3 separate regions of the Homo sapiens genome follow, and all the other regions are linked to region 2. The links come from fine-mapping of genetic effects on gene expression. A gene starts in region 2. Each other region holds a variant in brackets. All regions are shown on one strand. Distances are between the middles of the regions. Region 1 overlaps LIX1L (limb and CNS expressed 1 like). Region 2 holds the start of ANKRD34A (ankyrin repeat domain 34A). Region 3 holds the start of PEX11B (peroxisomal biogenesis factor 11 beta).

What was found. PIP is the estimated chance that this variant, and not a neighbour inherited with it, causes the effect. A credible set is the group of variants that fine-mapping cannot tell apart.
Region 1: its variant is the best candidate, but not a certain one, in a credible set for the expression of ANKRD34A in whole blood (TOPMed, PIP 0.73).
Region 3: its variant is the best candidate, but not a certain one, in a credible set for the expression of ANKRD34A in whole blood (TOPMed, PIP 0.56).

What each region holds. Positions count from the first base shown.
Region 1 is chr1:145,930,770-145,938,378 of GRCh38, reverse strand. It overlaps LIX1L (limb and CNS expressed 1 like), which reads left to right. Exons shown (of 6, transcript NM_153713.3): 4 at 680-775; 5 at 1,394-1,471; 6 at 1,827-4,956. The coding sequence ends at 2,069. All of the region lies in intron 2 of LIX1L-AS1 (LIX1L antisense RNA 1), which reads right to left. Among named protein-coding and RNA genes, the nearest start is that of RBM8A, 7.1 kb to the right of the region's middle. The variant TAA/A (reference allele first, on the strand shown) is at 4,206.
Region 2 is chr1:145,960,874-145,968,482 of GRCh38, reverse strand. It overlaps ANKRD34A (ankyrin repeat domain 34A), which reads left to right and starts at 3,908. Exons shown (of 4, transcript NM_001039888.4): 1 at 3,908-4,299; 2 at 4,946-5,173; 3 at 5,515-6,062; 4 at 6,604-7,609. The coding sequence starts at 6,724. POLR3GL (RNA polymerase III subunit GL) reads right to left here and starts at 3,793. Exons shown (of 8, transcript NM_032305.3): 1 at 3,715-3,793. RefSeq lists enhancers at 3,897-4,066, 7,465-7,514, 6,716-7,551 and a silencer at 4,382-4,676.
Region 3 is chr1:145,913,203-145,920,811 of GRCh38, reverse strand. PEX11B (peroxisomal biogenesis factor 11 beta) reads left to right here and starts at 2,095. Exons shown (of 4, transcript NM_003846.3): 1 at 2,095-2,179; 2 at 2,996-3,111; 3 at 3,794-3,995. The coding sequence starts at 2,124. It also overlaps the pseudogene GNRHR2. RefSeq lists enhancers at 1,360-1,459, 1,510-1,569, 1,950-2,049, 1,848-2,395, 2,396-2,942. The variant C/T (reference allele first, on the strand shown) is at 2,975.

The DNA of each region.
Region 1 (7,609 bases), 30 kb after region 2:
TGCAGGACAGTGTGTCTTAATTCTAACCCTGCAGGGTTACATAACCAATAGAAGACACAATAGGCCAATGTCCAGGAGACCACACTGCTACCCAGAATTTCCACACTTATACCACATTTCAGAAAGTCAGTACAAAAATGTAAAATATTTCATTAATAATGTTTATACTGACTACAGTTGAAAAATAATATTTTGAACATATTGGGTTAAATAAGATATATTATTAAAATTAATTTTACTTGTTTTTTTTTTTTTCTGAGACAGAGTCTCACTCTGTTGTCCAGGCTGGAGTGCAGTAGCCCGATCTCTGCAATCTCCGCCTCCCAGGTTGAAGTGATTCTCCTGCCTCAGCCTCCTGAGTAGCTGGGATTTACAGGCACCCACTACCATGCCCGGCTAATTTTTGTATTTTTAGTAGAGACACGGTTTCACCATGTTGGCCAGGCTGGTCTCAAACTCCTGACCTCAAGTGATCTGCCCACCTTGGCCTCCCACAGTGCTGGGATTACAGGCATGAGCCACTGCACCTGGACTTACCTCTTTATTTTTACTTTAATGTGGCAGAGAGGAAATTTTGAATTAAATATGTGGCTTGCATTATATTTCTACTGGACAGTGCTGCTTGAGATGATAATCCTGGTTGAAAATCTATTTGTCTTTTCTGTTCCTCTACTACCAGGGCAACAGGGAGGAAGCTGACAACCCAAATACAGGGATTGGTGCCTTCCGATTCATGCTGGAATCCAACAAGGGCAAATCAATGTTGGAGTTCCAGGTACTTTCCCATGTACTTCCCTGGTTCTAATAACATGGGTCAGCCTGCTACTGTAATATATAATGGCTCCTACTAATTCCTAACTCATTGATACTGGAAAAGAAAGAAGGTTGTTACACTATTTTTCAAAAATAAATACCTTCCTGGCTGGGCATGGTGGCTCAGGCCTGTAATCCCAGCACTTTGGGAGGCTGAGGCGGGTGGATCACTTGAGGCCAGGAGTTTGAGACATGGCAAAGCCCCGTTTCTACTAAAAATACAAAAATTAGCTATGATGGCACATGCCTGTAATCCCAGCTACTTGGGAGGCTGAAGCACGAGAATTGCTTGAACCCAGGAAGCAGAGGTTGCAGTGAGCTGAGATTGCGCCACTACACTCCAGCCTGGGTGACAGAGCAAGACTCTGTCTCAAATAAGTAAGTAAGTAAGTAAATAAATAAATAAATAAATAAATAAATAAATAAATAAATAAATATTTTTCTTCCCCAAAGGCCTATCAGAGTTAGTGATGAGAGATGCTTCTACAAATCCATTTTGTAAAAGGTTTCCCATGTAATTCTGATGCAACCTCCCAATATAAAAATCACTGTCCTGGTACTTCCTATCCTCTTCCCCCAGGAGCTAATGACAGTTTTTCAACTGCTACACTGGAATGGCAGCCTTAAGGCCATGAGGGAACGACAATGCTCTCGGCAGGTAAGAGATTTTATGAGTGGGGGCGAATGAGGGGAGCACAATCTGTCAGTGGACTCTTTTGAGGTGGTTACTATGTTAGAAATAAGGTCTATTGTGACCTATGGTTGTGAATATTGAAAGCCTTACCTAAGTACCCTCTTCATTCCTATAATCTTTCCTGTGTAAATATTAGCTGTGATTCTTTTGTCTATCTTGCTTCCCGTAGCAGGAAGTGCCTTTAAGAATCTCCTTGAAGAACTTAGGTGCTGACCTCAGTTAGGTCTCTAAAGCTGAGTTCTTAGTCCCAGTTGGGTCAGTGTGGTATGATATGAACCTTTACCTTCTCAATGATGTTCACATTCCCCTCCCCTACTAGGAGGTGTTGGCTCATTATTCGCACCGGGCCCTGGATGATGATATTCGCCACCAAATGGCCTTGGACTGGGTGAGCCGGGAGCAGAGTGTGCCGGGGGCACTGTCTAGAGAGCTGGCCTCTACTGAGCGGGAGCTGGATGAAGCCCGACTGGCAGGCAAGGAGCTGCGCTTCCACAAGGAGAAGAAAGATATTCTTGTGCTGGCTGCTGGGCAGTTGGGCAATATGCATTCTTCCAACTGCTAGGCATCCACCCACATAACTCCCCAGGCTTTCCACAGCCTTTTTTTATGTCTCCTTTCTAAGATTTAGGATGATTTTTTGTACATACTTTCTCATTTTTATACTTTAAAAAATATATATGTGTATAAATTCTACACCTAGATTCCTATTTGCTAAGAGATCCCTTTTCTTACTACCAGTTTTTGGATGTAGTTTTATTTGAAACATCTTCAGTCCACTTTACAACAAAGAGCAGCTTGTCTTTGCAGCTTTGTTAGCTCTTAAACTTCCAGATTAACTGTGTAGCCATTTCAGTAGCACTAAAAGATTAACTCTAGTGTTCATGTGTCCTTCTTTTCAAATATCAGGTAACTTGAATAAGGATTATGTGCCCCACCCTTACTCTCATTCCTGCTTCCTCTTGGACTCAAACAGGGTATGAGTATGAAGATTTTGCCTTTAGTTCCTGAACTGAACCTGCTTGCTATCCCTTTCCTCCCCACCACTACCTTATTCCTTCTCTGCCTCCAAATTGCCACTTTGTTTTGAGGCTTCCTTCCCTACCTTATTATTCTGAAGGAAGTAGAGATCTTGCTTCTGAAACCCCTCCTAAGAAACTGCCCAGGGACAAGATAAATTACAAACAATTCATGGGAGTTTACTACCTAAGTTGCTTCTAGGGCATATGTATACCATACTAGTAGTCTAGATTTCTGGATATACTCTACAGTAGATGGGGGTTATGGTTGAAACTGATTCTCTTTCAGTATTCCCTCTAAACATCTCCCCTACTCCCCCAGCTTAGTTAAACCCTGCGTTTGGACCTTCCTGCCTGCAGCTATTAGTAGAAAGTAAAACATATTTCCATATTTCCCTTCACCTAACATTTTATTTTTTGGAAGCGTTATCAGTCCTATTTGGTTAGTGAGAACCATGTTCCCCTTATTCCCGCTAAGTTGCTGCTGTTTACTACCTTAGATTCTCATTTGTTTTCTCTTTCTTTCCTCTCCTTCCACATTAATTATTAGAACATAAGTTGATCAGGAAAATTAAATGAGACTTTAGTATTTTGGCACTTCCTAATTGACACCTTGGGAGACTGCAGGAAGGGAAAGAGAATCAATGATCAGTTATTTGTGTGTGTGTGTGGTTTTTTTTTTTTTTTGGAAGACAGAGTCTCACACTTTTGCCCAGGCTGGAGTGCAGTGGCGTGATCTCGGCTCACTGCAACCTCTGCCTCCAGGGTTCAAGCGATTCTCTTGCCTCAGCTTCCCGAGTAGCTGGGATTACAGGCACACGCCACAACGCCTGGCTAATTTTTATATTTTTAGTAGAGACAGGGTTTCACCATGTTGGCCAGGCTGTTCTTGAACTCCTGACATAAGGTAATCCACCCGCCTCAGCCTCCCAAAGTGCTGGGATTACAGGCGTGAGGCACTGAGCCTGGCCTATTTGTGGTTTTTTTTTGGTTTTGTTTTTGTTTTTGTTTTTGAGACGGAGTCTTGCTCTGTCGCCCAGGCTAGAGTGCAGTGGCGCGATCTCGGCTCACTGCAACCTCCGCCTCCCAGATTCACACCATTCTCCTGCCTCAGCCTCCCGAGTAGCTGGGATTACAGGTGCCCACCACCACGCCCAGCTAATTTTTTGTATTTTTAGTAGAGACGGGGTTTCACCATGTTAGCCAGGACGGTCTCCATCTCCTGACCTCGTGATCCACCTGCCTCGGCCTCCCAAACTATTTGTGTGTTTTTTTTTTTTTTGAGACGGAGTCTCGCTCTGTCGCCCAGGCTGGAGTGCAGTGGCGCTATCTCGGCTCACTGCAAGCTCCGCCTCCCGGGTTCACGCCACTCTCCTGCCTCAGCCTCCTTAGTAGCTGGGACTACAGGCGCCCGCCACCATGCCTGGCTAATTTTTTTGTATTTTTAGTAGAGACGGGGTTTCACCGTGTTTGACAGGATGGTCTCGATTTCCTGACTTCGTGATCCGCCCGCCTCGGCCTCCCAAAGTGCTGGGATTACAGGCGTGAGCCACCGCGCCCGGCACTATTTGTGTTTTTAACACCATTCTCCCCCACTTCTCTCCTGGGTGACATAAGAGAGAAATAACCTGTAGTACAGCAGCTAAAGTATTCTCCTTTCAGAGAATTTTTTTGGAGGTCTC[TAA/A]TATATATTTCCCCCTTGTCTCTGTGATCTCTTATTTATACTATATTATTGTCCCATGTACTTTCTAAACTGAGCTTGGAACATTTAGTATTCCTGCAATTGGACTTCCCACTTAACAATTATACAGACTTTGCTTTTAGAAATAGATTAGGTTCCAAACAGAAAGTTCAAGTGTAACAACAACAATAAAAATAGATTATGAAACAGGCTATAATTGGCTCTTTTGGATTTGATAGGGGCAAGATGAAAGGCAACTTTCTTGCTTTTGAAATCATGTTGGGTAAGAGGTAAGGAATCCAGCTACAATTTTATTAGTGCTTGAAACGGGCTTCCTTGAATTCTCCAGGCCCTATCATTTTTTTTTTCTTACTAATCAGAAGAGAGCTGGGGTAGAAGCCCCATGTTTGTATTCCATGAAACACGTCGGGTTGGAGTAAAGGCAAAAACAGCTAGACACACCAGGTGTGTCTGTTTGACATTTATAAGCTGGCACTCATCAACACTCCTGTTTCTCCTTTCTCTGGGACGTGTGGATTAAGGGGTGTGAGTTGTGGGAAGAATTGCCCTCGTACCTCCTGGATTTATTATTTTTCTCAAATACCAACCAGTAAGATCCCAAATAACTTGAGAAAAATTGTTTCCTGATCTGTCCACTTCTGGTGTCAAAGATTTTACTCATCTTCTTAGTACATTCTATGTATTTTATATGTATAATTTTATACAATTAAAAATAGATTTTTGTCTAGTGAGCCAGACTGACTCTTTCTTGAGACCTATATATTACAAAAGTGAAGGGGTGGGTTGCCCCTCCACACCTGTGGGCGTTTCTCGTTAGGTGGAACAAGAGACACAGAGACAAAGTATAGAGAAAGAAAACTGGGCCCAGCTGACCAGCGTTCAGTATACGGAGGATCCACGCCAGCCTCTGAGTTCCCTTAGTATTTATTGATCATTATTGGGCGTTTCCCGGAGAGGGGGATGTGGCAGGATCATAGGATAATAGTGGAGAGAAGGTCAGCAGGTAAACACGTGAACAAAGGTCTCTGCATCATAAACAAGGTAAAGAATTAAGTGCTGTGCTTTGGATATGTATACACATAAACATCTCAATGCCTTAAAGAGCAGTATTGCTGCCCGCATGTCCCACCTCCAGCCCTAAGGTGGCTTTCCCCTATCTCAGTAGATGGAATATACAATCAGGTTTTACACCGAGACATTCCATTGCCCAGGGACGAGCAGGAGACAGATGCCTTCCTCTTGTCTCAACCGCAAGGAGGTGTTACTTCCTCTTTTACTAATCCTCCTCAGCACAGACCCTTTACGGGTGTCGGGCTGGGGGACGGTCAGGTCTTTCCCTTCCCACGAGGCCATATCTCAGGCTATCACATGGGGAGAAACCTTGGACAATACCTGGCTTTCCTAGGCAGAGATCCCTGCGGCCTTCCTCAGTGGTTTGTGTCTCTGGGTACTTGAGATTAGGAAGTGGTTTGAGATTAGGGAGTGGTGATGACTCTTAACAAGCATGCTACCTTCAAGCATTTGTTTAACAAAGCACACCCTGCACAGCCCTTAATCCATTTAACCCTGAGTTGACACAGCACGTGTTTCAGGGAGCACAGGGTTGGGGGTAGTGTTACAGATTAACAGCATCTCAATGCAGAAGAATTTTTCTTAGTACAGAACAAAATGGAGCCTCCTATGTCTACTTCTTTCTACACAGACACAGTAACAATCTGGTCTCCCTTTCTTTTCCCCACAAGAAGCTCTAAAACATCCCTGTTCTTTTACATATATACTAAAGAAGAATTTTTAGGCCAGGTGCGGTGGCTCATGCCTGTAATCCCAGCACTTTGGGAGGCCGAGGCGGGTGGATCACGAGGTCAGGAGTTCGAGACCAGCCTGGCCACCATGGTGAAACCCCCATCTCTACTAAAAAAAATTAAAAATTAGCTGGGCATGGTGGTGGGCGCCTGTAATCCCAGCTACTTGGGAGGCTGAGGCAGGAGAATTACCTGAACCCAGGAGGTGGAGGTTGCAGTGAGCCGAGACTGAGTGATTGCACTCCAGCCTGGACATCAGGGTGAGACTCTATCTCAAAAAAAAAAAAAATTTTATTAGCATTTTTGGGGTGGTAGAAATGATTGCATAAGGCAGCCTGCCTCCCTTTCTGCAGATATTTAACCTGGAGTTTGTCCTTGGTCTTTTCTCCTCAAGCTCTACCTACTCCCACTGGCAATCTCACCCATTATGGTGACTTGAACTCCACTATACACATGACTCTCAAATCTATTTCTTCCTCCCCAACCTGTTTTAAGCTTTTACATTTACTTTCCACATACTTGACACGGCCATCTGAATATGACAAAAGCACTTTGAAACATATCGAAAATAAAAAACATTTCTCCATACTCATTCCTCTTTGACTCTCTAGATTATTCGAATTATTATTATTCTTATTATTATTATTTTTGAGACGAAGTCTTGCTCTTGTCCCCCAGGCTGGAGTGAAATGGCGCGATCTCGGCTCACTGCAACCTCTGCCTCCTGGGTTCAAGCGATTCTCCTGCCTCAGCCTTCTGAGTAGCTGGGATTATAGGCGCCCGCCACCACGCCCAGCTAATTTTTGTATTTTTAGTAAAGATGGAGTTTCACCATGTTGGCCAGGCTGGTCTCGAACTCCTGACCTCAGGTGATCCACCTGCCTGGGCCTCCCAAAGTGCTGGGATTACAGGCGTAAGCCACCATGCCCCGCCGATCTATTATTAGAATTATTATCTACACTGTTACCTAAGCCACACACCTCAGATCCACCCTCAACTCCTCTACCATAATGTAAATATGTTGTTTTTGAGACAGAGTTTTGCTCTTGTTGCCCAGGCTGGAGTACAATGGTGCAGTATCAGCTCACTGCATCCACTGCCTCTTGGGTTCAGGAGATTCTCCTGCCTCAGCCTCCCAAGTAGCTGGGATTACAGGCACCCACTACCACACGTGGCAAATTTTTTTATTTTTAATAGAGATGGGGTTTTACCATGTTGGCCAGGCTGGTCTCGAACTCCCGACCTCAGGTGATCCGCCCGCCTCAACCTCCCAAAGTGCTGGGATTACAGGTGTGAGCCACTGCGCCTGGCCTACCTCCTAATATGTTTTGTCCATATTTACTGCCTGAGCTTAGGTTTGGTCCTTTCTCATCTCCAGACTGGATCACTACAATAGCTTCCTAGCTGGTCTTCACCTCCATTCTTAACATCCTCCATACTACTGTCATATTTCTTTATAAAATACTTATGACTGTGACACTCCCTTGCTTAAGCCATCACTGAACTATCTTTACCTTTAGCAGCATTTCCCAAAGTTTTTTTTTATTTTTTTTGAGACAGGGTCTCACTCTAATGAGCAGGC
Region 2 (7,609 bases):
GCAGTGGAGATAGGAGCTGCTGTGACTGCAAAGCAATGAAGAGTCAATAAATGGCCATGAGTTTGAGGTTAGACAAATTCCACACCATTTCTACACATTAAATGAGTGATCCTCTAAGAATGCAGGGGAAAAAGAAGACAAAATTTTATTTAATACAGGTTGGGAAATAAACCATCCATCTGCCCCATTCATCTTAGGAATCTATAGGGAGTCTCTGCTATTAAAGATTGTGATGGAGTTAAAATTCTTGAGGATACTTAAGGTCTCCCATAATCTAGTCACAATCTGCTCCTCCTTAACATCAACCTTTCCAGAGAGTTTACCCCTGTACTCTGTTTTACTCCAAACAACACTCATATACACTATGCTCATTCCCAATTATTCATACATATATATTGTGGTGGAAGTTACTGAGAGGCAGGTTTCAACTAAACATACAGAAAAACACTAACAATTACATCAAATTTAAGGAAGGCAGTACATGTAGAGGTTAAGAATATGGTTTTGAATCCCAGTTCAATTTCCTAGCTACAAAACTCTGGTAATTTATTTATTGTCTCTAAACCTGTTTCCTCATCTGTAAAATGGGAATAAAAATAACAATAATAGAATCATTTCACTCAACAAATATTTACTGAGTGCTTACTAGGTGTGCCAGGCACTGTTCTAGATTCTATGGATATAGCAGTGTGCAAAACAGACAAAAACATGCTGCACCCACGGGGTTTAAATGGAGCTTTCATTCCAGTGGAGGCATCAGCAAACAAACAATACTTCAAGCCATGAGACTAGGTGAGACCCCTAAAGGAGTGGATGTGGACAGAGAAAATAAGAAATCCAGGCACTGAGGCCTGGGGCACGCTGATGTGTAGAATTTGCTATACATGTAATAAATAAAGCAAGAAATTAACACCCTTAAAATCTTGGAAATCCAAATTTTAAAAAATCATCTCAATAGAAAAAATGGGCAAAGGACATGAACAGGCAACTGGCAAAGAGAATGGCCATGTCTGGACATGGTGGCTCACTCCTGTAATCCAGGGTTTTGGGAGGCCGAGGTGGACAGATCACTTGAGGCCAGGAGTTCATGACCAGCCTGGGCAACATAGAGAAACCCTGTCTCTACTAAAAATACAAAAAATTAGCCAGGCACAGTGGTACACACCTTTAATTCCAGCTACTCAGGAGGCTGAGGCATGAGACTCACTTGAACACAGGAGGTGGAGGTTGCAGTGAGCTGAGATCTCACCACTGCACTCCAGCTTGGGCAACAGAGCAAGACTGTCTCAAAAAAAAAAAAAAGGAGAGAGAATGGCCAATAAAACCACTCTTCACCTATGAAAGTGACAAAGATTTAAATAATAAGCAGGCTGTCATGAGTTTTTTTTCAAATGGACACTCTCATACCTCACTGGAAAGACTATAAACATAATATTTCAAGGGGAGCAATTTGTCCAGTTAAATCAACAGCCTTTGAAATGTTTATATCCCTAATCCAGCAATCCCACTTTAAAAATATATTCCAAAGACATCAACAGATATACAGTCACAGATATAAGTAAAAGGATATTCATCAAAGAGCTATTTATGGTAGCAAAAATTCTGAAATAACTGAAACAATCTAACAATAAATGAATGGTTAAAAAATACCCATTTTATTTATTTATGTTCTTTTTATTTTATTATTTTTTTTTTGAGACAGTTTCACTCTTGTCGTCCAGGCTGGAGTGCAATGGCGCAATCTCAGCTCACCGCAACCTCCACCTCCTGGGTTCAAGTGATTCTCCTGCCTCAGCCCCCCGAGTAACTGGGATTACAGGCATGCGCCACCATGCCTGGCTAATTTTTTTTGTAGTTTTAGTAGAGATGGGGTTTCTCCATGTTGGTCAGGCTGGTCTTGTACTCCTGACTTCGTGATCCACCCGCCTTGGCCTCACAAAGTGCTGGGATTACAGGCATGAGCCATCACGCCCGGCCTCTTTTTTTTTTTTTTTTTTTTGAGACAGGTTCTTGCTCTGTCGCTTAGGCTGAAGTGCAGTGCAGTGGCAATTTTGGCTCACTGCAGCCTCGACTTCTCCAGCTCAAGCAACCCTCCACCTCAGCCTCCTGAGCAGCTGGAACTACAGGCCTGAGACACCATGCTTGGCTATTTTTTTTGTAGTTTTTGTAGAGACAGGGTTTTGTCATGTTGCCTAGACTGGTCTTGAACTCCTGGGCTAAAGTGATCTGCCTACCTCAGCCTCCCAAAGTGCTGGAATTACAGGCATGAGCCACCACGCCCAGCCAGAAATGGCTTGCTTTTAAGAATGCTACCAATTCCACTGTAAAAGGACAGATTTCCTTTTTTTTTTTTTTTTTTTTTTTTTGAGAGGGAGTTTTGCTCTTGTTGCCCAGGCTGGAGTGCAATGGTGCGATCTGAGCTCACTGCAACCTCCGCCTCCTGGGTTCTAATGATTCTCCTGCCTCAGCCTCCCCAGTAGCTGGGATTACAGGCATGCGCCAACACGCCCAGCTAATTTTTGTATTTTTAGTAGAGACAGAGTTTCTCCACGTTGGTCAGGCTGGTCTCCAACTCCCGACCTCAGGCGATCTGCCCGCCTCGGCCTCCCAAAGTGCTGGGATTACAGGCATGAGCCACCGTGCCCAGCCATATTTCCCTCTTTTACAGTGGAAGTGTGGAATGCATTTCCTTTAGCTATATATTTCTTATTTAGAATATTTGTAGGATATTGACTAAAGAACAGGTATCAAAAAATTGAATGATCTACAAGAGAGATAAGAGAGTTCCCTTACTAAAGATGTTTACATAGAAGCTGGGTAAAAATTTACTACATAGGGTTTGTAAGAAGGATGCATGGCTCTAGTAGAGGATTCCCTATGATCAGCATGATTTAGCATTGTGTCTGGCATATAGTAGGTGCTCAATAAATATTTATTGAATGAATAAATACATCATTTCTATGGGCCTTTCCAAACTTGAGAAATTGTGATCCATAAAGCCTCCCCTCACCATTCCAGTTCTCCTTGCTTTCTTCCTTCTCTAGATTGTAGAAACAATTATGAAACACTAATATTATGAACCACTAATTTAATGGCTCTTAATTACATACTGTATTGTCTTTTATTGTTCCCTAGTTATGTTAGGAGTTTAAATTCTGCCTCCCCAAAAAGAGTGCTAGTTACCAGAAATCAATTCTATTTAACTAACGTTTATTGGGCACTATATATTAACTACTAGCACCTGTCCTACAAAACCTTCTATTCTAAAAGGCATAGAAACGTTAAAGAGAGACAGTGCACTAAGTGTCCTAATAAAGGTATATACAAAACGCTATCGTAGACGGGGGAACAATTCATTTTGCAAGAAAGGCGGCCCAGGAAAACTACAGGTAGCATTTCAGCTAGTCTTCATAGATAACAGGAGTTTGTCAGGCTCTTGGGATAATATTAATAGATTAGGGGGAAGTTGATGCTATAGCAAAGACAGATACAAGAGGCTGTCTCGTTTTCTGCTTTAATGTCTCTCCCCATGCGCGATAGAAAACTGCCATTCTCTAGTATACAATCAATACAGAAATGGAAGCCCAGGGGAGAAACGGTAGGGAGCCAGAAGGGGGCTGATCCAACAACCTGACGGAAAGCGTTGTCTATTTCGCAGCCTGGCCGGGGTGAACAAGTTTGGCAAGTGTCGGACCGAACCAGGTCAAGCCTTACCTGCTGCCCCTCCCCAAAGCGGAGCCCAAGCCGCGACCAACTTGAAATGTACTGGGCTTCCTCAAGTCGGTGGCGTTCTAAGCCCGCCTCCCGGAGCTCCCTATTGGTGAGTTTTCTCGGCCAATGCAGGAGAAGCCGAGGAGGGAAGTCCGCCCTCTTGAAGCCTAGGAAGAGAAGGAGGGAGGGAGCGAGTACGCCCGGAACCGAAGCTTGCGAAGCGGGTCGCAGAGAGAGATGGGCGTTGCAGAATCAGCTGGGGTCACTTATTTCCGGTCTCACTCCAGATGAAGGAGCCACTAGCCGGCGAGAGTTCACCGAGGGAACGTGACACTCATATCTCATCGAGGGACCGTGTTGAGGGAGCCCCTACAGAGAGGCCAAAGGAGGAGAGGGCCTACGGAGAAATGAACCTCTGTAAAAGCTGCTCTTTAGGGATCAGTCTTTTTGTGACTCTAGCTTCATAGCTTGGTCTCTCCATTACTCCAGCCTTCCTTTCAATCATACACTGCCTCTCTCCAGCACCACCAATGGATACTTCTTTTCTAAAAATGTTTTTCTGTGGGTTGCTGCCGTGTCTGTGAGAAGGTGGGCAGAGGGTTCAAGAAAGGAAGGATTTGGGATCAGCGTACCAGGGTTGGGGAGACAGGGCAGGAGCCCAGCTTTTTCTGCATTTTCCACTACTTTCCACTTCCTGCGAGCTCCTTGGGAAAGCCAGCAGAGTGGAAGGAGGAGTCCTATTTTCACAGAAAGCAGAAACAAGGGAGAAAGGTTCAGAATGGAGATGAAATCTAGGAGTTAGTCAAGAAGAACATCCCAGATGTCAGAGAAAATGGCCTGTAGACTGGGAGGCTGTAGGTGTAGTGGCAAGCTCCCAGTCTTTGCCATAGGACAGAAACATAGCTGTGAAGCTTTGGAGAGCTTGCTTAACCTTATTAAGTCTGTTTCCTCATCTGTAACAAGAAGATGATAGTTCCTATCTTATAAAGTTGTGAGGATTGAAAATAGTGTATGTAAAGCACATGGCACATAGTTGACACGTGTCCAAGAAATAACTAGTAAAAATGGGTAGCTTCCTGCAAATATTTCTCTCTCTCTCCCATCCCCGGGAACATTATTTTCAGTATCTTGCATCTGGGGGGCCTCCAGCCTCTGAATTAGCTCAGGACCCTGAGTGAACTTTTTAAATCCTTAGGATTTTTCTTTTTCTCCCACTTCCCTTGGTGCCTTCCAGCTGGACACAAACTCATTCCTAAAATATGTGGATGGAAGCTATGGTAACCATGGAGACAGGGCAGGTGGCAAGGAGAGGCAGAGACAGTGTGAGAGACCAATAGACAGATAGGAAGAGAGAAGATATAAGGAATGTTTCAGACAGAGATCGTCAAGCAAGATGGAAAAAATAAGACGTCTAAGCAAGACTGAGATTAAAGAGATGCAATGTGAGAGAGTGTATTACAAGGTTCGCTCTTCTTCCTGCCCCTGTCCTATCTCCCTGCCCACAATAATACGGGGTGGAGGCACCTGGAATGTCCCTTGCCTTATCTAAAAGTGCTCCCATATCCACCTTCCTCATACTTATCTAAGAGGTCTACATAAGGGAGCTGAGGTCCAAGTTTCTCTGCGATGGGTGTTCCGTTTTTGAGAGATGGGGCGGGGGTGTATCTGTGTCTGACTCCAGGCTGGACCGTGATCTCCTTCACAATTAAACTACAGGAAGAAAGCCACATCTCTTGCCTCTCTTTGCACAGTATGGACACCGGCTGTGGATCCAAAAAGCCTTTCTACACCTTTCTTACACAGTGTGCCATGTGCCGTGTATGGCAGGTCAGGTCTGGCGCACAGGAGCGCACAAACACACCAAGTGCGGAGAATGGGGATCTGCTGAATCTCAGCGAAGAATCTGGATGATGGTCCCTGTCTGGGTCGCGGAGGAGTCCCCTAAGGAACACTTAGGTTTGTTGGGGCTGAGGGGAGGTCGGCTGAGAAAAGGAAGTCAGGATTGGAGCCTCTAGGTTTTTGAGGGTTTATGTGTGCATGAGTGGGGGAGCAGTTTGGTGCCTGACGCCCCCACCCGCAGTGACTAGGCTATAAATAGCACAGCAGAGCTCCGCCCCCCCCCCCCCCCCCCCCCCCGCCAAGCTTCTCTCCTCCCGAGCCGGCGCTGTGCCCGGGGCGCTCCGGGAGGAGGGACCAGGATCCGGCGCCGGGGCGCAGATACTGACACCAAGGGAATCCGGGTGCCCCCCCCCCCACGCCATGCGGGCCCCCAGGAAACTGGCTCCGCCACCTCGGCTGCCCCGTGGCCACGGCCCCAATCCTGGCCAGGCGGAGATTCTGCGGACATTCAGGTATCTATCTGGGCACACAGCCTGGGAGGGGAAAGAGCAAGGAGTGATGGGGAACATCGCAGGGGCAATAGAACCCCCCAATTCTCCCTCCACCCGTTTTAGGTCTCAAATGCAGGCTGCTTCCCTCCCCCCACTCAATTTTTGGGGTTGTGGCAAGCTAAAACAGGTTAGGAATGAGAATACATGTGTGACTGTAGGGTGCATGTATGTGGGTGGGTGGCGTTCAGCATCCTAGAAAGGGGGATCCCAAGTGTGGATAAGACAAGGGGGACAGAGGAAAGGTCTGATAAGCCATGGGGTGAGGGTGGGGGTGCGGACATCCCTGCGCGTGCACGAACGCATTTGCACGCGCGCTAGTCCTTCAGTGCGGGTGCACCCTTCCCACCTCCTCAGGCATGCGCTGCGGGGGAAGGGCCGGCTCAAAGGCATGAGTTAGAGGAAGGACTGTATGCCGTGAAGGTCTCCTCCACCCCACGCTGGGTCCCTGCATCTGTGCCTCAGTTTTCCTGCCGAATCTATCAATGAGATGTCTCTCTTGCAGGGATCGGCTTCGTCACTGAGACCTCAGGCCTCTGCCAGCCACTCCCCCTCCCCATACCCCTAGTCATCCTCGGCAGGTCTCAGTCCCGGCTCCATCTGTGCCCTCGCCCCAGCCGCAGCTATGTTGCACACCGAGGGCCACGCTCTTCTTCGGGCGGTGGGTCAGGGTAAGCTACGCTTGGCCCGTTTGCTTCTGGAGGGAGGCGCCTACGTGAATGAGGGTGATGCGCAGGGGGAGACTGCGCTAATGGCAGCCTGTCGGGCCCGCTACGACGACCCCCAGAACAAGGCACGCATGGTACGCTACCTCCTGGAGCAAGGCGCGGACCCCAATATCGCAGACCGATTAGGGCGCACGGCGCTCATGCACGCTTGCGCCGGGGGTGGGGGCGCCGCGGTGGCCTCGCTGCTCCTTGCCCACGGCGCAGACCCCTCAGTCCGAGATCACGCGGGCGCCTCGGCTCTTGTCCACGCCCTGGACCGCGGGGACCGCGAGACCCTTGCCACACTGCTGGACGCCTGCAAGGCCAAGGGTACGGAGGTCATCATCATCACCACCGATACCTCGCCCTCAGGCACCAAGAAGACCCGGCAGTATCTCAATTCTCCACCATCCCCAGGGGTGGAGGACCCTGCTCCCGCCTCTCCTAGCCCGGGGTTCTGCACGTCGCCTTCGGAAATCCAACTGCAGACCGCTGGAGGAGGAGGGCGTGGGATGTTATCCCCTCGCGCCCAGGAAGAAGAGGAGAAGCGGGACGTATTTGAATTCCCTCTTCCTAAGCCCCCCGATGACCCATCCCCTTCCGAGCCGCTCCCCAAACCACCACGCCATCCCCCAAAACCACTCAAAAGGCTCAACTCCGAGCCCTGGGGCCTAGTGGCCCCTCCTCAACCAGTCCCACCCACTGAAGGGAGACCGGGGATCGAGCGCTTGACTGCCGAATTCAATGGCCTGACCCTGACCGGTCGACCCCGTCTTTCCCGACGTCACAGCACCGAAGGCCCTG
Region 3 (7,609 bases), 48 kb after region 2:
TGCTGGTGTGCTGCACCCATTAACTCGTCATTTAGCATTAGGTATATCTCCTAATGCTATCCCTCCCCCCTCCCCCCACCCCCCAACAGTCCCCAGAGTGTGATGTTCCCCTTCCTGTGTCCATGTGTTCTCATTGTTCAATTCCCATCTATGAGTGAGAACATGCGGTGTTTGGTTTTTTGTCCTTGCAATAGTTTACTGAGAATGATGATTTCCAATTTCATCCATGTCCCTACAAAGGACATGAACTCATCATTTTTTACGGCTGCATAGTATTCCATGGTGTATATGTGCCACATTTTCTTAATCCAGTCTATCATTATTAGACATTTGGGTTGGTTCCAAGTCTTTGCTGTTGTGAATAGTGCCGCAATAAACATGTGTGCATGTGTCTTTATAGCAGCATGATTTATAGTCCTTTGGGTATATACCCAGTAATGGGATGGCTGGGTCAAATGGTATTTCTAGTTCTAGATCCCTGAGGAATCGAAAAGGCAGGCTCTTAACAGATGTAAATTAACATACAAATAATCTTACAGAAGAGAGAGCAGAGGTAGCAGGGTGCGGTGGCTCACGCCTGTAATCTCAGCACTTTGGGAGGCTGAGACAGGTGGATCATGAGGTCAAGAGATGGAGACCACCTGGCCAACATGGTGAAACCTCGCCTCTACTAAAAATACAAAAATTAGCCGGGCATGGTAGCGGGCGCCTGTAGCTTCTCGGGAGGCTGAGGGAGGAGAATTGCTTGAACCCGGGAGGCGGAGGTTGCAGTGAGCCGGCAAAAAAAAAAAAAAGCAAGCAGAGGCTTACTCCCTGAGAATTAATGGCTAATGGCCCCCAAGCGCACCCTTTAACTCATGCTATGGACCCAAATCCCTGTCCTGCCCGGTCCTGAGTCCTAGGTCACTCACCTGGGGGAAGGCAAGCAGGAAACTAAGTCCCCAGGCTGCCCCCAGAAGTTTCCTTACACCTGAACGGGATCCAAGCGGGTTGAGTACTGCTGCCTGGCGGTCCAATCCAATGACCACAGGCAGGAAAGCTGCAGAATACGTGGCCATTAGTTTCAGGAACATCAGTGTCCGACATGCGATGTCCACAGCCAGCCATTGAACAGTGATATTCCAGGTGGCATCTAGGGGCATAACCACAAAAGTGACTAGTAAGTCGGCGGCTGCTAAATGGATGAAGAGTCTCCTGACCGGAGAGGGGCGGAGCTGGCTGGGTTCCCGCCGTGTCACTGACCACAGGACTGCCAGGTTCCCTCCAGCCGAAGAAACAAACAGCACAATGGTCACTCCCACTCGGACCTTGGCTGCTGCCGAGAAGGTGGGCAGCTCTGAGCCCTCCACCTCCACTCCTGATCCAGCCCAGACCTCCTCCCCCGCTGCTGACCCCAAGGGGTGCCGTTGCCTGCAGACATGGTGGCCTGGAGAGAAACTGAGGAGGATGAAGTGTGGGTATGAAGCGGTTAGCTTTGGCCACTGATTCTTCGCCCTCCTTTTCAGGATCTGGAGCTGATTATTGCGAATTTCGTTCACTAAAGCCTCTGCTTCTGGAGACTCTCCATCTGTTCTGGAGGAGGTCACTTGTTCAACTGTCAAGGTTCTGCAGGGAACGAAGATCTGGTACCAATCACGCTCCTTTTTCCTTGGACAGACCAGCCTGGGCTTCAGGCCTCTACTGACCTAGACCTCTTTAGCCCCTACAGCCCTGGATTCAGTCGGGGCCTGCGTGCATGTGTATTTGTGAGGTTCTGCCAGGCGCACACCTATGCCGGCGGCCTCCAAGACGTGGAGATCACTGCGGCGCTTTCTCGCCCCGCCCCGGCCCCTGCAGGCCCCGCCCTTGGTCATGAATATTTAAAGAAGAAGGTGCCGCTGGAGGCGTGCTAGGGAGTAGGGGTCGTCTGATAAGGGGAAGCTGTGACGCAGACACGCACAGTAATACACAGATGGAGGCTCAAAAGACACGAGTTTCGCGTCCTGAAATTCCGCTTCCAGGGCCAAGCTTTCTTTTCTGATACTGTTTGTCCCTCGCGAGGCACCGTTGGGTCGCGCAGTAGGCGTGACTAGGGGCGGGAAGTGGGGCGGGAGCAGGGCCGCGGAGCCTGGGCTGCGGCTGTCATGGACGCCTGGGTCCGCTTCAGTGCTCAGAGCCAAGCCCGGGAGCGGCTGTGTAGGTGCGGCCCGAATAGGAATGGGGGTGGGGCGGGGGAGGGATGGACAGAGGAAGACTCTAGTGAGGCGAAGTCAGTTTAGGCTACAGGGGGGTCAAGAAGGGTCAACTCCGGCTACGGGGGCCCGAACGGACCGTGAGGCGCAGATTTGAGCCGCTGTTGAGATGATTCCTTTCCGTTCGCGGAAGAGATGGGGAAACTGAGGCATGAGTGGGCCAGCGGGGAGGCCGCTCAGGGTTGCTGTGTCCACATAAGACCGACAGTGTCCTCACTGGGCGGTGATGGAATGAGGAGCATTCGCCCCACGGTGGATAGCCCCAGACTCTGCCCCCAGAGCTGAGGAGGCACTCCCAGTTTCCGTGTCCCCACACCGTGCTGCCATTCGGGAACTCCCCTGCCTCCGCCCTGGCGTTTGGTCTCCATTCAGCTAGAGGGCCTTGAAATCTCTCAGTTCACCTATTCTGAGGAATAAAATGCCCTCCAACTGTCTGCCTCCCCCTCATCGATCACGTACATGCTCACGCTGATGTGCTTGTGATGGACCCCTGCGGCCTGCACTGGCCCCTTCAGGCCTCATCATTGTCAAATCTCTAATTTGCTCAACATTCAATAGTGCTCCCCACCCCTTTCTAGACTCTTTTTTCTCCTTATGCCTTTCCCTTCCTCTGGCCTGGAGAAATGGTGAGATATGGGCATGGAGGAGGAAGGGGAGTGTTCTCAAACTGGGAAAGGGGGAAGTCTGTCTGTGCCTTTTGGAAGATAGTTTTGAGCGGAAGGTTAGGGAGGTCTCCACCTTAC[C/T]TTGCCTGCCCTCTCCTCTAGGGCCGCCCAGTATGCTTGCTCTCTTCTTGGCCATGCGCTGCAGAGGCATGGAGCCAGTCCTGAGTTACAGAAACAGATTCGACAACTGGAGAGCCACCTGAGCCTTGGAAGAAAGCGTAAGTAACTCTGTCTTTCCTTTTATCCCCCAACCTTTCCTCCATCCCCAGCTCACCTTCCTTTGTCCCTCCTTCCTGTACCCTCTCTGTTCTTCTTTCTCATTTGGCTCTGCACTTACCCTCTGCATGAGTCCAGTTGAGATAAGAGAGCAGGGGTATGGAAGTAATTAGGCGGACTGGAGAGAATGGGTCAAGTTTGAGAAAACTAAACTGGCACAAAAATTAAATTTGAAATTGAAAAATGGACTGTTTCTGCTCTTTATTTTTTATTTTTTTGAGACAGAGTCTCTCGTCCAGGTCAGAGTGCAGTGGCGCAATCTTGGCTCACTGCAACCTCTGCCTCCCAGGTTCAAGCAATTCTCCTGTCTCAGCCTCCTGAGCAGCTGGGACTACAGGTGCCCACCACCATGCCGGGCTAATTTTTGTATTTTTAGTAGAGATGGGGTTACACCATGTTGGCCAGGCTGGTCTCAAACTCGTGACCTCAGGTGATCCACCCACCTCGGCCTCCCAAAATGTTGGGATTACAGGCTTGAGCCACCATGCCCAGCCTGTTTCTGCTCTTTAAAAAAATTGTCATTATTATTGCTCAACTTTTGCCCTCTTGCTTTCTCTGTTTCTGTTTCTTGTTATCTGCCTCTCCACTTACAAATCCTTGCTTTCCCTTTCTAATCTCCACAAGTTCTACGCCTGGGTAACTCAGCAGATGCCCTTGAGTCAGCCAAAAGAGCTGTTCACCTATCAGATGTTGTCCTGAGATTCTGCATCACTGTTAGTCACCTCAATCGAGCCTTGTACTTCGCCTGTGACAATGTCCTGTGGGCTGGAAAGTCTGGACTGGCTCCCCGTGTGGATCAGGAGAAGTGGGCCCAGCGTTCATTCAGGTTTGATATCCTGTTCTCCTTTAAGATTTTTTTTTGTAGCCTCTATATTGCATAGCTTGTCTTATATGAGGGAAAGATATCTTAGGATCTTTCCAGAGTATATAAGTCTTGATCAGTCACTTGGCTTCCAATCACTTAGATCTTAAACTATCGGAGAATATCAAATGGGGAGAGATGGAAGACAGATGCTCTTCCATAATGAATGACTAATATTGTGCAAGGTAAGATATTATATCACTTTAATTGTGCTTCTATACCACAGGTTATTCCCCCTCACTACCTGCTTACTCATTCATTCCAAAGATATTTATTAGATGCTTACTGTGGCGCAGGGGATAAAGCAAAGAGCTAAACAGATAATGTGCCTGCTCCCATGAAGCTTCTAGTTTAGTGAGGGAGTTAGATACTACAATGAATAACTTCTCATATATATTTGTGGAAAAGTATGCGGTATTATGAAAGAATATCACAAGGGGAGCTAATTTAGATTGGAAAATCAGGAAAAAACTCTTTGAGAAAGTAATATTTTAGCTCAGACCTGATGTCTGAGTAGGAGGAGTTAGACAAAGCCAACAGTAGCAGAAAAGACATTTCCAAACAGAGAAAATTGCACATTCTAAGTAAGGCTTTGAACTAAGAAAGACTTAAGGGAATTAGAGAAATAGAAAGAAAGCCAGTGTGATTGACAGTATTGAGTCCATCAGTTCAAATTTGAGAGATAGACAGGCACCAGATCTTTCATACAGGGCCTTTTAGGCAATGTTAATGTTTGTTTTATTTTATCCTACAATGGGACATTATTGAAGGATTCTGAGCAGGGAAATGACATGATTCAAATTGTGTTTAAAGGACATCTCTTTTTGAGATGTTGAAAATGGATTGCAGGCCGGGCGCAGTGGCTCACGCCTGTAATCCCAGCACTTTGGGAGGCCGAGGTTGGGGGGATCACGAGGTCAGGACTTCAAGACCAGCCTGGCCAACGTGGCAAAACCCCGTCTCTACTAAAATTACAAAAATTAGCCAGGTGTGGTGGCGGGCACCTGTAATCCCAGCTACTCGGGAGGCTGAGGCAGGAGACTCGCTTGAACCCGGGAGGCAAAGGTTGCAGTGAGCCGAGATCGTGCTATTGCACTCCAGCCTAGGTGACAAGAGCAAGACTCCATCTCAAAAAAAAAAAAAAAAGAAAAGAAAAGAAAAGAAAATGGATTGCAGTGGGTCAAGAGAGGAGGAGATGCCCTAATACGAGCAAGAGATGACGTTGGCTTGGACAAAGGAGGTAGCTGACAATAAAGGTAGAGAGAAATATGATGTGGGAGTAAAATTCTCTAACATATTATCTGTATTGTTTTTCGTTTTCCTATGATTGTACTTTTTCATTATATTAACCTTGCTTTTCCCTTCATCTTTCTCAGTGATTTACAACTTTAACATGGCTTATGATGTATGAGGGGTGGGAGCAGAGGCATGGCTGGAGCAGTATGGAAAAGCAACTCCCTAAAGGAGTCTATATGTTATATTTATTCATTTCATCCAACAGATACTTACTGAGCTCTTACTATATGGTAGGCACCAGTGTACATACAGGGATACAGTGGTTAAAGATAAACAAGGCCGGCCAGGTGCGGTGGCTCATGCCTGTAATCCCAGCACTTTGGGAGGCCAAGGCGGGCGGATCACCTGAGGTCAGGAGTTTTGAGACCAGCCTGACCGGCATGGAGAAACCCCGTCTCTACTAAAAATACAAAATTAGCCGGGTGTGGTGGCGCATGCCTGTAATCCCAGCTACTCGGGAGGTTGAGGCAGGAGAATCGCTTGAACCCGGGAGGCAGAGTTTGTGGTGAGCCGAGATCGTGCCATTGTACTCTAGCCTGGGCAACAACAGTGAAATACCGTCTCAAAAAAAAAGAAAAGACAAACAAGGCCTCTGCTCCTCTGGAACTTACCTTGTAATGGGATGAGATAAACATAAATAAACAATAAATTAAAATATCAGATACTGGTAAATGTTATGCAGGAAATTAAAACAGTGTTATGGAGTAGAGAGTAACTGACTCAGTGCTTTAGATTTAGGGATAAGGGAAGGCGTCTCCGAAGAGGTGATACTTAAGCTCATACCTGAAGAGCAAGAAAGAGCTAGCTATGTGAGGGTTTTGGAGGGAGAATATTCCAGGTGGAGGGAGAATATTCCAGGTAGAGGGAATAGGTAGTGCAAAGGTCCTAAGGCAAGAACAAGCTTGATGGGATTAAAATGTAGAAGGAAACCAACATGGTTGGAGCATAATGATTGCAGGAAAGAATGATACAAGGTAAAGTTAGAGGGGTAGGGACCAGATGTTGAGTCTGTAAGCCTCTCTAAGGTATTTATATTTTATTATGAATGTGACAGGAAGAAAACCATGGAGAGCTGTGGTTTGTTTATTTGTTTTTGGTTTTTTTTTTTTTTGAGATGGAGTCTTGCTCTGTCGCCCAGGCTGGAGCGCAATGGTGCAATCTCAGCTCACTGCAACGTCCATCTCTTGGGTTCAAGTGATTCTGCTGCCTCAGCCTCCTGAGTAGCTGGGATTACAGGCACGCGCCACCACACCCAGCTAATTTTTGTATTTTTAGTAGAGACAGGGTTTCACCACGTTGGTCAGGCTAGTCTCCAACTCCTGACCTCATGATCCACTTGCCTCCACCTCCCGAAGTGCTGGGATTATAGGCGTGAGCCACCACGCCTGGCCAACCATGGAGAGTTTTAAGAAGGGAAGTAATGATGTGATTTATGTTTATGCTAGCTATTATATGAAAATAGATTGTTGGGGGTGGGGGCAACAATGGCCACAGTGAGACCAGTTAAAACATTAAAGCAGAAGTCCAGACAAGAGATGTTAGTGGCTTAGAGTATGGCAGTGCGGTGTGATAGAGAGATGTGGTTGGTTGGGTTCAGGATATACTTTGAAGGTAGTACAAGTTATTGAGTACAGACCACCATTGTCAGATTGGATTACAAATAAAAAACATGGATTTTTTACTGAAGAAATTTATAATTTAACACATTTGGCAATTACTTAAACCTCTGGGCCTCTAAAGGAATAGGGATTGGATTTAGATCACCTTTAATATGTTTGAGTCTCTGAGACATCTGAAATTTGTTCTTTCAAAACAAGTTTGCCTTGTTATAGGTCAAGTTGAGAGAGAGATGGAGAGTGTGTGTGTGTGTGTGTGTGTGTGTGTGTGTGTGTTGCCAAGTGGAAAATGAAATTTGAGATTGACCTTGGAAGATTTCATGATGCTCATGGAGTTTAAACCAGGATCTTAAGGTGCACATAAACATGTATTAGTTACAGAATGTTGGGAGGACTTTGTTTCTTCATTTTTATTGGGACATAATTGACAAATAGAAATTACATATATTTAAGGAGTTATAGCTCGATGTTTGTACATGTACGTTGTGACATGATCACCACAGTCAAGCTAATTAACATATCCATCACCTCACATAATTACCTTTTTTCTTTTATGGTAAGAACACTTAAGATCTACCTTCCTGGCAGATTTCAAATATACAATACAGTATTGTTAACTATAGTCACAATGTAGTACATTAGATCTCCAGAACTTACTCATCTTGC